Linked DNA regions of Homo sapiens: region 1 is linked to region 2. The links come from fine-mapping of genetic effects on gene expression. A gene starts in region 2. The other region holds a variant in brackets. All regions are shown on one strand. Distances are between the middles of the regions. Region 1 holds the start of TAS2R20 (taste 2 receptor member 20). Region 2 holds the start of TAS2R19 (taste 2 receptor member 19).

Region 1 (2,928 bases), 24 kb before region 2:
ATTAGATGAAGTTGGATTCAACACAGTTGAATACCAATGTAATAATATTACCCAGAGCAAACCAACTCTGGAGACTGCCAGAGCAGCAATAATTTGATCAGCTGAGGAGATCTTTTGTCTCTTGACCCAGGCAATGAAATTTATCAGTGCTATAAAGCCATTGGCAAAATTTCCAAGAATAAATGCAACCACTACTAGAATGGAAAAAACAATGTGTAGAAAACTCATCATGTCTAAACAAAAAAGCAAGTAAAAAATTCAGGCCTAATGTCACTGATGGTGACTCCTCTGATATTCAAGACTTTAAGTTAAATATGCACTTGATTCCTGAATGTCCAATAACATTCTTTATACTTTTAAATTCTGTGAACAATGTCAACAGAAAAGCACCAGCTTAAACTAATGAATGAGTTCAATGCTGCCTTTATGGGAAATACTGTTAGTCCCAAAACAACTCAAATTAATTCTTATTCATAAAGTCTCTATTCTTGCTATAGGCTGAAATTTTTCATACTGATGTTGAAGGGAAAGCTGAATTCTCATTTGCTAGCATTCAAATAAAGACATATCCTCTTTCATTGCTTTGCAATTTTTTCCTTGTTTCACCTTTCCATAATTTGTGTTCAGCCCTTCAGTTGTTGGGGAAATTTTAATACCCAGTACATAGATGACACAAAAAATATATTGTTAAAAGAGCCTGGTGAAATCTAGGATCAAAATCACTATGGATTTATTTTTAAAGCCAGATTTAAATACACAGAATCTAAACTTTTTATCAAAATCACCTAAGATTTTCTTGGAAACCACAGGAAAGCCAATACTCCTTATAATTTGGTTGCTGTTAACCAATACTTCTATATGGCATCACTATTAACAAGCTCATAAACACACACACAGACACACACACACTTTCACTCTTCAAGGATGGAAGGAATTGCTTTCTTGTAACTTATGACATGGAAAATGAGTTTCCAGGAGCTCGTCCTGGTGGAATTAGTCCTATTTTTCCCATGCCAGATTTTCAGCCAATGAATAATATTCATGAAACATATCTCTCATGCTTAGGCTTTTGGTAATGCTACCTGCAAGCTTGTAAACATTCCTGAGTACCAGACCTTTGTCACATAATTTTGCAGTGTCCTCCCACCACAGGCATAGTGACAACCTTGCACTAGGGCTCTGAGTTCGATCATGTAATTTGCTTTGATGAACAGAAAATTACTACACTTTACATCGAAATTTGAGATGACCTCCACATTAGGCTTTCTTGTTCCTTTCCGGTTTATAATGAGAACATGTCCACACTAACACACTGTTCCCAGAATAAGAATGAGTAACTCATGGAATCATATGGC[T/C]CCTGCCTGATCCAGCCTTAAATCGGCCAAACTCTAACTAGATCCAAGAGGCAAAACTTGGACCATCTCAAATCACCAGAGCCATCCACCAAACCCCAGCTTAAGAAAACAGAATCCAAAAACATGTGAGATATAAATATCTAATGTGGTTTTGGAGAAGTTTCTTTTGCAGAAAAAGCTAAGTGATATAGGTACTCTGCTAATCCAAGAGTTTGAGAAATATGTGCGCCCTTGTTGTGTCAGAAATTCAGGAGCCAAAGGAAAAATAGGTTGGAAATATCAAAGTTTTTGTAATATGAGGTGAATATCTAAAACTAGAAGAAAACTTTTGGAAAGATCTGGAGGCTGTAGGTAACAGCATCTCAAATTTCTCCATTTTGCAACTAAAATAAGAATTCACTTTAGCTCTCTTGAGTTGTATAAGAATGTACGTAAATGGTGGATTTTCCCCCTAGGTATATAATGAGCAGAGCAATTAATAATTTTTACGTGACATTTCTCCCAATTTGTAATTTTTTAAATAAAATTATAATGCACACTTAGAAATGGGCCAAAACAAAAATAGGTAAGAGCAATGTATCATAAACACTTATGTAACCATCATGCAGGATAAGACATGGAACACTGCAAACAGACTAGGTCCACTTCCAGGCCACTTTCCAAGCCCCTAAACCTTTATTCACATCTCCTGAGATAAGCAATATTCATAATCTATGATGATCATTTGCTTGAATTTCTTTATACTTTACCAGCTAGGTTCACAACCCTAAACTCCACAGCTTGGTCTGTCCTGCTTTGAACTGTGTATAGGTGCAGTCCTGTGTGTTCTTCTTGTTCATGGCTTCTTGCACTAGATATCATGTTTCTGAAATTTAGTTACATAGTTGCATGTACATGTGATTCATTTCTTTTCACCTCTATATACTGTTCCACTGTATGGATTTACTGTAATCTTTCATATCATTCAATCATCCTTAGTTAATATATATTTGGGCAGTCTATTTTTGAGCTATTATGAATAATACTACTATCAGCATTATTTCACATATCATTTGATGCAATTCCTATTATGGGGTCATTAAATGTGGTGTTCAAATTATCCTCACAGACATAGAAAAGTGCAAAAAATAATTTATCTAAATTTGTTCCTGTCACCTTTACCTCCAGTCTCTTTATCGCTATTTGCATATATCTTATCAATAATATATTTAACTCAGCAAGACGCTATTATTTTATTCAGTCAACATTCATTTAGAATTATGCACATATTTATCATTTCTGTTAATTTTTATTCCTTCTTGCATGCTTAACCTTGTATTTTCAATATTTTTTATCTGAAAAATATCATTTGGATTTCTGTTTATGAAGGTCCTCTATTCTTTTGAAACACACTAAAGACATGATTCCATTGAATTCTACTTTCCATTTTTCTGTTGAAAATCAGGTTGTCATTTAGAAAGTTGTTCCTTTTAAAATAATCTATCTTTTCCTCTGGCTACTTTTCAGATTTTCTACTGGTCTTTGATGTCTTGTGACATTTTATGTTAATTTGTTTTTAGTTATCTTGTCTGAC
Region 2 (2,928 bases):
CACACATGCACACATATACACCCATAAATATATATATGACTTTTCTAGGTATCTGTTTTGAAATTACTCACATACAAACACTATGGAAAAACTGATAGAAATATAAAATGTTCCAGACACCATCAGTTTGTTTTCTGCTAGAAGACCCACGATGCTCCCCTTGTGAATCTATGGAGTTGAGGGTTTCTCTTCTTTCACTCAGCGTGTCATCTGCCACAAAACTGAAAGAAAGGTCTGTTTTAGCTTCCTACTTCCCATAATCAGGATGAATGAGTGGAATGAAGGATACATGATTGCAACAGTTTGGCAAAGCAGGAGTACAAGTTTGCTCTGCTGTGTCCTAAGATTCCAAGTTGATGTGATTATACACAGAAAGTAAATGGCAAATAACATGAGGAAGGAGGTCACAGTTTGCAAAGCTTTTATATGGACCTTGGTGCTGGGATCTTGAGATCCTTTGCTATGGAGCCGCATCTTCTTGAGATGTTTACAAAGAGAACAGATTAACAGCAGAAAACATATTAGGCTCAGAGTAAAGGGTATGAGGTTTGCTAGAGTAGTTACAGTCAAGCTTGAAAGGTGTATTGCATTCCTCAATTTGATCTTCCAAGTCACATTTCCTTCATATTCTTTTGTCCACACTCTCTCATCCATGGTTATCACAGCAAGATTACAAATCAGAAATACCAAGGGCCCCAACAGTATCACCAGAACAACACTCTTAATTCTCTTCTTTAGGTGGAGAGAAATAAGGTTGGAGAAATTGGCAATCTTGAGCAAACAAAATATGCTGAGGCTAGCAGCAAGCCACATGCTGAAATGGTTCGTTACAGCCCAGGCATTAGAAGCAACAATTCTTACTTCTAAACCATATAAAGCAGAATTAAACACAGTTGCATACCAAAGGAATAACATGACCCAGAGTAAACCAATTCTGGAGACCACCAGAGCAGTGAGAATTTGCTCAGCTGAGGAGATCTTTCGTGTGTTAACCCAGTCAATGACATTTACTAGGGCTATGAAGCCATTGGCAACATTTCCAAGAACAAATGCAAACACTACCAGAATTGATGAAATGATGAGCAGAAAACACATCATGTTTGAACAGATAAAAAAATGCAGGCTTAGTAACACTTGTTCTGAGTCCTTTAACATCCAGATGTTAACTTCGATGAACACTTGATTACTAAATGTGCAATAACATTTTCTGCCTTTAAATTCAGTGACTAGTGTCAACAGGCAAGCACCAGCATATGCTAATAGATGAATTCAAAACTGTCTTTATAGAAATAGAAAAGGTCATTATTCTCAAAACAGCTCAAATTCACTCCTCTTCATATACATTCTCTCCTTGCTATATGCTGTACTTTTTTATACTGAGGTTGAAGTGGAAAATGAATTCTCATGTGTTAGTATGCAAAGAAAGGCATATTATTTTTCATTGTTTTGCAATTTTTTTCCTTGTTTAACCTCTCCATAATTTGTATACAGCATCTTCAGTTGTTCCATAGGGAAATTGTAAAACCCAATACATATATCATATAGTAAATGTCTAAATTGTTAAAGGAGCTTGGTCATAACTAGGATCATACCAATATGGACTTATTTTTATGCCAGATTTAAATACCAGATTCTAAACCTTTTATCAAAATCATCCAAGATTATCTTGGAAATCCCTGGGAGGCTGATACACTTTAAAATCTGGTTTCTGATAACCAATAAATTGATATGACATCATTGTTAATAAGCTCCTAAACACATAGACACACATGCACTCACACCCTTAGGGCATGGAAGGAATTATTTTCTTATAATTCCCCAAATGGAAAATGAGTTTCCAGGAACTCATCCAGGTGGTATTAGTCTTATTTTCCAACTCAGGGCTGTCAGACAATGAATAATATTTATCAAACATGTTTCTCAAGCTTAGGCCTTTGGTATATTTACACTCAAGTCTGTTTTGTTTAAACATTAATTATTTAATTAAAATGTTCAGCAATTTTGTAAATATTTCTAAGTACCCTACTCTTTGTCACATAATCCTGCAGTACCCTCCCACCTCAGGCAGGGTGACTACCTTGACCTTGGACTCTGAATTCACTCACGTAATTTGCTTCAGTCAACAGGAAATTAGTAGAATTTACAGAGATTTAAGATGGCTTCCATATTGAAGTTTCCTGCTCTTTTCCACTAACCATGAGGACATCATCTGGCTAGCACACTGTTCCCAGAAGAAGAAAGAGAAACTAATGGAGTCAGAATGCCACTGCCTTATCTACCCTAAATCAGCCAAACTAGCGGCAAGATGCAGTACGTGGCCCATCTCCAATCACCAGAGCCATCCACCAAACCTAGGTTAGAAAAATGTAATCCAAAGACATAATGATACACAATTATCTAACTCAGTTTTCTCTTGCAGAAAAACATAAGTGATGTAGGTATTCTGCTAAATCAGGAGTGTGGGAAATATGCCCACCATTGTTGTGTCAGGAATTCAGGATCGAAGGAAAAAATAGAGAATGTCCAAGTTTTGTCATATGAAGTGGGTAATTAAACCTAAAAGAAAAACCTATTCAGAAATCTGTGGTTGGCAGGTAACATCATGTCAAGTTTCCTAAAGTTGCAACTAAAATCAGAAAGTTTCTACTTAAAATCTCTTAGAGTTACACATGAATGTATACAAATAGTGGATTTTTCCCTTCAGTATATAATGAGCAGAGTAATAATAATTTTCATGGACCATTTCTCCTAATTAATAATTTTTATCATATAGCTAGACTGCACACTTAGAAATGAACCAAAACAAAAATGGAAAACATAGCAATGTGTCATAAACACTCATGTAACCATCATGTAGGGCAAGACATGGAACATTGCTAAGAGCCTAAGTTTACCTCAATGCCACTTTCTAATTCCCTACACCTTTCT

The links. PIP is the estimated chance that this variant, and not a neighbour inherited with it, causes the effect. A credible set is the group of variants that fine-mapping cannot tell apart.
Region 1: its variant is the best candidate, but not a certain one, in a credible set for the expression of TAS2R19 in spinal cord (GTEx, PIP 0.55).

Annotation. Positions count from the first base shown.
Region 1 is chr12:10,997,645-11,000,572 of GRCh38, forward strand. The region is part of intron 3 of PRH1-TAS2R14 (PRH1-TAS2R14 readthrough); the gene reads right to left. It overlaps TAS2R20 (taste 2 receptor member 20), which reads right to left and starts at 660. Exons shown (of 1, transcript NM_176889.4): 1 at 1-660. The coding sequence starts at 231. The region is part of intron 3 of PRH1-PRR4 (PRH1-PRR4 readthrough); the gene reads right to left. It also overlaps a transcript of PRH1 not described here. The variant T/C (reference allele first, on the strand shown) is at 1,356.
Region 2 is chr12:11,021,474-11,024,401 of GRCh38, forward strand. TAS2R19 (taste 2 receptor member 19) reads right to left here and starts at 1,147. Exons shown (of 1, transcript NM_176888.2): 1 at 146-1,147. The coding sequence starts at 1,098. The coding sequence ends at 199. All of the region lies in intron 3 of PRH1-TAS2R14 (PRH1-TAS2R14 readthrough), which reads right to left. The region is part of intron 3 of PRH1-PRR4 (PRH1-PRR4 readthrough); the gene reads right to left. It also overlaps a transcript of PRH1 not described here.